Linked DNA regions of Homo sapiens. The protein of the gene in region 2 interacts with the protein of the main gene of each other region in a pairwise test. Each region holds a gene or a part of one and is shown on either strand. Other genes may lie near its edges. The genes, in order: PDE6D and RAP1A.

What was found.
Region 1: the proteins of RAP1A (region 2) and PDE6D interact in a two-hybrid assay, tested with the Homo sapiens proteins (2 studies listed by BioGRID).

What each region holds. Positions count from the first base shown.
Region 1 is NC_000002.12:231,739,543-231,743,574, reverse strand, and holds part of PDE6D (retinal rod rhodopsin-sensitive cGMP 3',5'-cyclic phosphodiesterase subunit delta), read left to right. Parts: intron 1-2,468; exon of another isoform or gene 2,469-2,618; coding exon of another isoform or gene 2,619-2,696; intron 2,697-4,032. UniProt on the Homo sapiens protein: Promotes the release of prenylated target proteins from cellular membranes. Modulates the activity of prenylated or palmitoylated Ras family members by regulating their subcellular location.
Region 2 is NC_000001.11:111,622,789-111,626,288, reverse strand, and holds part of RAP1A (ras-related protein Rap-1A precursor), read right to left. Parts: intron 1-3,500. UniProt on the Homo sapiens protein: Counteracts the mitogenic function of Ras, at least partly because it can interact with Ras GAPs and RAF in a competitive manner. Together with ITGB1BP1, regulates KRIT1 localization to microtubules and membranes.

The DNA.
Region 1 (4,032 bases), on a different chromosome or scaffold from region 2:
TCTGAAAGCGACAGTACATTCATGCAGGGATGCCCACAAGCAGGTTGAGTGCACAGAAAGATAGACTCCTCATCACATTGCAGGCACTCTGCTGAATAACCCTTTGTTATATTTTGAGACTTTTCTTTTTTTTTTTTTTTTTTTTTGAGACGGAATCTTGCTCTGTCGCCAGGCTGGAGTGCAGTACATGATCTTGGCTCACTGCTCACTGCAACCTCCGCCTCCTCTGTTCAAGCGATTCTCCTGCCTCAGCCTCCTGATTAGCTGGGACTACAGGCGCACACCACCACGCCCAGCTAATTCTTGTATTTTTAGTAGAAACGGGGTTTCACCATGTTGGCCAAGATGGTCTTGATCTCTTGACCTCGTGATCCGCCCGCCTCGGCCTCCAAAAGTGCTGCAATTACAGGCGTGAGCCACGACGCCCAGCCGAGACTTTTCTCGTATAGCAGCAAAACCTAGACAGAATCTCTCCAGAGGGTAAAATATAGTGTTATTACACACATGATGATTCCAGTCAGCTGTGTTGTTTAGGGTTCTTCACTGCAAGCTATTCAAACAATGGGAAAGGGTATCTGAGGCTTTTGGAGCTGCCTGGAAGTTGAAGGACAGGGTCTGTAGCAAAGACCACACAGTAGGAAAGGGCAGGTTGGCATGCCCCTGCTGCCCCCACCCTGAAGAACTTCCAACTCCCTCGAAAGTCCTGTAGCTTCAGGACCCCAGAACTGGGTAGCACGTGTCCAAGGCTAGGCCTTCTTGTGCTCACCCCTGATTATGCCAGGGCTGGGAGAAAAGGATCTGGCCTTTCTAGCTGCTGTAGTGCAAAGCAGTCACTGCCTTCCACAAGGTAGAGACTCTCTTCTTTGGGAAGAGAGTCTGATCACAAGATAGCAAAAAAAGAAAACCAAAAAAAAGACACATGTAAACTATATCTATATTATACATATATTTATCTGCAGCTCAGTCTCTTCGCAAATATTAACGATCTTTTGCAGACAGCCTCTGTGCTTGCATAATGTTAATTTTCTTTTCCTTTAATGGTTTGTCAATTGTTTTTTAAAACAAAACAAAAAAAACCTTAGCACTCTCTTCTTAAAGTTAGTCTTTATTTTTATTAAGTTGTATGTGTTCATCATTTAAAGAATCATAGTCAGCCGGGCAAGGTGGCTCACACCTGTAATCGCAGCACTTTGGGAGGCCAAGGCAAGCGGATCACCTGAGGTCGGGAGTTTGAGACCAGCCTGAACAACATGGAGAAACCCCATCTCCAGTTAAAAATACAAAAATTAGCCGGGCATGGTGGTGCATGCCTGTAATCCCAGCTACTCAGGAGGCTGAGGCAGGAGAATTGCTTGAACCCAGGAGGTGGAGATTGCAGTGAGCCAAGATCATGCCATTGCACTCCAGCCTGGGCAACAAGAGCGAAACCATCTCAAAAAAAAAACAAAAAACACAGTCTATCTAGTTTCTAATGAAGAGCACCACTCCCTGTCCCCCTATTTTCTACTCCCCAGAGAAAACTATTTTCAATCCTTTTTAGCTTATTTATTTGGTATTCATCTTGGTATTTCTAAAAAGCAAAATGTGGCTATGTCGTAATGTTTCCATTTTAGCATTATTTATCCACTTTCCACTACGGAAAATGACAGTTTTGTTGTTTCTCAACATTTCGTGCCTGACTATCCAGATATACATACTCTTGTTCCCCCATCCTCCCAGGTAAATTATATTGGGTGTTAGCATGTGCTTTCATTGTTATGACCATATCAGCACTACTTGCAATGAAGCCATGAGTTATACTATGACTACTTTTTTCTTCCAGTACTACCTTTAATTTTTCTTGATGTCAGTACTTGGATTTTTGTCATTTGCTTAGATTTTCTGTGCTTCTCATGAATTTGACCCCAAAATCTCCCTCTAATTGTATAAATCTCCTTTCCATATAAACACACTAGGTATTCTATGAATTTTATCTTTTTAAAAGAAAATCTCTTCCTGAGCTTTGTGACCTGCTCTAGCCTGGACCCTGGACTAGTCACTCTCCAGACCTGTTAAAGAGCTATTGTCTTGGGATCTTCCTTCACTGTCACTCAGGGGACTCCCTTCAGCTGTTTCTTGCTTGCTATATCCCATGTCATCCCCTTTCTTGGTTTTCTCTGTCATTTTGATGAAGCCATATTTTCCTTAGTTTCTTAAGAAAGCAAATATTTTTTAGTTTGTTTCAGGAATTGTTTCCCTGAAAATTTTAAAGGCCCTGCTAAGTTGTCTCCTACCCTCCAGGGTTCCTTTTGAATTTGATTTATTCTGATTTTTTTTCCTATTCTGATTTGACCCTTTGTATAATGACTTGTTTAACCTCTGGAAGCTTTTCGCTTTTCTTTATCTTTGATATTCTGTAAATGCACTAATGATGTGACTTGGGCATTTGCTACACCCTTTTTTTTTTTTTTTTTTTTTTTTTGAGACAGGGTTTCGCTCTTGTTGAGGCTGGAGTGCAATGGCGCAATCTCCCGGGTTCAAGTGATTCTCCTGCCTCAGCCTCCTGAGTAGCTGGGATTACAGGCAGGCACCACCACGTCTGGCTAATTTTGTGTTTTCGGTAGAGATGGGGTTTCTCCATGTTGGTCAGGCTGGTCTCGAACTCCCGACTTCAGGTGATCCGCCCGCCTCAGCCTCCCAAAGTGCTGGGATTACAGGTGAGCCATCGCTCCTGGCCTAGACACTTTCCATCTACGAAATTTTCTTGAATTAATTTATTGATGCCATCCTCCCCTCTGTTCTCTCTGTTCTACCTTTCTAGAACTTCTATTAGTTAGACACTAGAACTCTTGGACTATTCTTGGACTATAAGTTTTTGTGCCTTTACTCTCCTTTTTTTTTTTTTTTTTTTTTTTGAGACAGGGTCTCCCTCTGTCGCCCAGGCTGGAGTGCAGTCGCATGATCTCGGCTCACTGCAGCATTGATTTTGTGGACTCAGGCAATCCTCTCACCTCAGCCTCCAGAGTAGCTGGGACCACAGGCATGCACCACCATGACTTGTTAATTTTGTATTTTTGTAGAGATGGGGTTTCACCATGTTTCCCAGGCTAATCTCAAACTCCTGAGCTCAAGGAATCCACCCACCTCAGCCTCCCAAAGTGCTGGAATTACAGGTGTGAGCCACCACACTCAGCCTGCTCTCCTGTTTTCTATCCTTGCCTTTTTCGTTCTGAAAGCTTTCTTCAATTTTGTCTTTGTGTTGAGTTGTTTGGTTCTGCTATCAAAATATATGTGTTTCTAGAGTTCTTTTTTGTTCTCTGAATATTCTTTTTTAAATTGGTATTATTGACTCATTTAATGTATGAAACAATACAGAAACTAGAAAATATAAATACTTATGTTAGAAGGCATTTTCTGACAGAGAACATCAGTTAACCAGCTTCATAAGTTGTAACCTCAAACCAGAGAAATTCACCTAAAATATACAGAATTTTATTATATTAATTTTTAGTGTCTGTAAAGGTTATGTCTTATCTCTCTTTTTTAATGCTCCTTTTTAAAACTTATGTCTTTATCTGTAAGCCTCTTTATTCTTCTAAGTTACTTTTTTCTTTTAGTTTGTTTTGGTCTGTCTTTCATAATAAATGCTTTCTTAAATTTCTGTTGATACTTGGCTATCTTCTCATATTTAAAAACAGGGCACTCAGAGGCTGAGGCAGACAGATCACTTGAGGTCAGGAGTTCGAGACCAGCCTGGCCAACATGGTGAAACCCCATCTCTATTAAAAATACAAAAATAAGCTGGGCTTGGTGACGTGCTCCTATAATTCCAGCTACTCAGGAGGCTGAGGCACAAGAATTGCTTGAACCAAGGAGATGAAGGTTGTAGTGAGCCGAGATTGTGCCACTGCATTCCAGCCTGTGTGACAGAGTGAGACTCTGTTTCAAAAAAAAAAAACAGAGGGGGCCACTACAAAGCAATTTGAGAGTTCTGTGCTTGTGGGTGAAGTTTATGGACTGTGGCATTCACTATAGAGTGATCTTCATGAGTTG
Region 2 (3,500 bases):
TTTAACTCTATTTTAAACAACTGGGAAACTGATTTGGTCTAATACTCATAAGCTGTTAGAAAACAAGACCACCAAAATAGCTGTTCACCAACTAAGAGAATGTGAAATGTTCACAATTTATTTTACTTAAAAAATGAGTATCATTCTATTTTCACTCTATCATGAAAATACAACACTGATTTATAAAACACATGACAGGCTGTGGCAAACAAAATAAACTGCTAGACTATAAATTCCTTTAAGCAGAAACTACACCTTCACATCTCAGTATCCATCAAAGAGCCTAATTTGGGGTTACTTAAACATCTGTTCAATGACTGAATCTGAAATCTATTAATGAAATTATGAATTAACTGTGGTGGCACACGCCTGTAGTCCCAGCTACTCAGGAGGCTGAAGTGGGAGGATAGCTTGAGCCCAGGAGGTGGAGAACAGCGTGGGTGATATAGCAAGACTCTGTGAAAGAAAAAGGAAGAAAAGGGAAATAGAAAAAGAAAAAGAAAAAAGAAGAGGAAGAGAAGAGAGAAAAAGGAAAAGAAATTATATGCAACCTTTTCACAAGCATAGGATGGAATTTAAAGGGTAGTTCCAAAGGTATCAATAGATTTGGCCTAGATTGTTAACTGTGTAAAACTGTAAGATTAGCATTAAATTTCAACTGCTACAATATTTAACTTAGTGCCTGCTTGCTTAATGTTTTATAATATAGCCAACTTGTCTAGAACAGAATGATCCTACTGATAAATGAATTTTAAAATATCACTGAAAATACAGTGAGTGAATTTACTCTCTGGATTACACATCTGACATATCTGAAATGTATAGTCAGCAATAAGAGATTTCCACTACTAACTTAGAGTCATATAAACTGCATTTGGGATATGTCCAAATAGTTGTATTCAGTTCTTTGTGCCTCTTTTTATAGTTTTGTCTTTTCTAAAGACAAAAACAAAACAAAAAAAAAAGAAAACAGTTAAAAAACGAAAGACAGCTAACCACAGTCCTATCATGAACAAAATTATCTTTTACCTCCAGAATAAGTGGGTACAGCACTGCACTGCAAAAAACCGTGAAGGAGTAACATGTTATAGGCGTATACACCTAGGTGTTCAAGGTAAGGCACTTCAAGTTTTAATTAACCCAATAGTATCTTTTATTAGCTTTTTTAGTTTAATATACTGCTATTCTTATGAAATATGGCCTAATTTAAATACATTCGGACACTAAAACATATGATTACACATTTAATTTTAAATTTGGTTAACTTTAACACTTTGAACCACTCTACCAGTGTAAACTAAATAGGTTAGAGGTAAGAAACACTGGGAAAATTTGAGTGATTTATAAAGAATTTTTTTTTCAGATTTATCTAACCTAAATTTATATAGCCTAAGTAAATAAGTCATTAGTGCTTTTAAAAAAGCCATTAACTTGTCTACTGATTGGAGTTTATTTCATAAAACATTTAATTTTCCATGCGTATATCAAGTATTTCTGAAAATTTTATTAAAAGAATTATTTTTAAACCACTTATAAACGCACGTTATTTCCTGTTTCAACTCTACCTTAATAACCATACACAATTTCCTTTTTTTATTGGTGCATGTGTATATGCATGTTTGTACCTTCTACCTCTAAAAGGCTTATTTTCAAGCAGAAATGACAGCATGGCATGGTTCTCTGTTGAACTGCTTTGTTGATCAGAACCTCATGATAATGAACAAAGCTAAGCTTATAGGTTCAATACTCATCTGGATCATTTAACTTTGAAACAAAGTGCCCTCTTAACCAGTCATCTCACAACTGTGTGCAGGAGACTGAGAGAATGTGAATTATGCAGTGCAAATCTATACCACTATTACAAAAGTTTCAAAATGTAAATGAGCTAATATTAACATTATCTTTGTATATGAAAAACTAAAAAGCACATAAAAACTACTGCTTGTAATCCCCATACTTCATGCACACAATAAAAGAAAAAATGGACACTTCATCTGTCTCAGTAACATACTAAAGCTTAAATATTTTTGTTTAATGCTAATCTTTTTCATAAGATATGAATCTGGCATTAAGTAATGCAGCAATTATATGACATCAGAATAAGCAAAAAATTCTTGGAAATAGGCCGTAACTCTTCTTACAAATGATTAGATGTAATCAATTAATTGTTATAACCAATTAATTTGAAAAGGGACATTATAAACGAGTAAACTTACATTCACAATTTCAAATGTATTCCAATATTAAAATATAAATGCTTTACATTAGTTATTTTCATTGACCAACTAAAATAAGAGAATTTTAGAATCACGAGATTAGAAGTGATCTGAGGTTCAATGAACATTTACGGTGTCCCTATCACATGTCAGAAACAGAGCAAGGTGCTTTCAAGTAACTCAAGTGATTCAACCCACTCCCTTGTGTAGATGTCAAAGCTCCCCACCTATGCCAAATCAAGCCATCTAGGTTCCAGAACCAGAAATTCTGGGCAAAGCCCTCACAGTGGTATAGTTTTCTATCAAAACTGGCTGGTGTCGTCATCCCCTATAAACCAAATAAAATTTCAATGTTGACCTATTTAACAAAAACAATAGTCTCAGCCGCAGGAGTCCAGCATTCTGGGAGGCTGAGGCGGGCGGATCATGAGGTCAGGAGTTCAAGACCAGCCTGACCAACATGGTGAAACTCTCTCTCTACTAAAAAAAAATACAAAAATTAGCCGGGTGTGGTGGCACGTGCCTGTAATCCCAGTTACTCAGGAGGCTAAGGCAGGAGAATCCCTTGAACCTCGGAGGCAGAGGTTGCAGTGAGCCAAGATCACATCACTGTACTCCAGCCTGGGTGACAGAGCAAGACTCTGTCTCAAAGAACAAAACATGGGGCGGTCACAGCTATAATATTCTAAAAGCATCATACAAAACAGAAATTAAACAAATTACAGATACCATTAAAAATTCCTTTGTTGCCAGCCACAGTAGCTCACACCTGTAATCCCAACACTTTTGGAGGCCAAGGTGGCTGGATCACTTGAGGTCAGGAGTTTGAGATCAGCCTGGCCAACATGGGGAAACCTCGTCTCTACTAACGATTAAAAAAAAAAAAAATTATCTGGGCGTGGTGGTGGGTACCTGTTATCCCAGCTACTGGGGAGGCTGAGACAGGAGAATCGCTTGAACCCAGGAGGCAGAGGTTGCAGTGAGCCAAGATTGCACCACTGCACACCAGGCTGGATGACAGAGCAAGACTCCGTCTCAAAAAAAATTTAATTTTTAAACATATCCCTTTGTAAGGAAAAAAAACAATTACCAACATGAAAATCTGGATGTCTAATCCCTATTTTATATAAAATATCATCAACCATACACTAAAGTTCATGGGTAAAACTAAACACTGGCAAGATCTGGAGTAACTTAACTATTACAATACAAACAATGACAGACTGTGAAACTCCCTGAGGGCAGAGACCCTGTCTAATTCATCTCTGTATCCAACAATTAGCA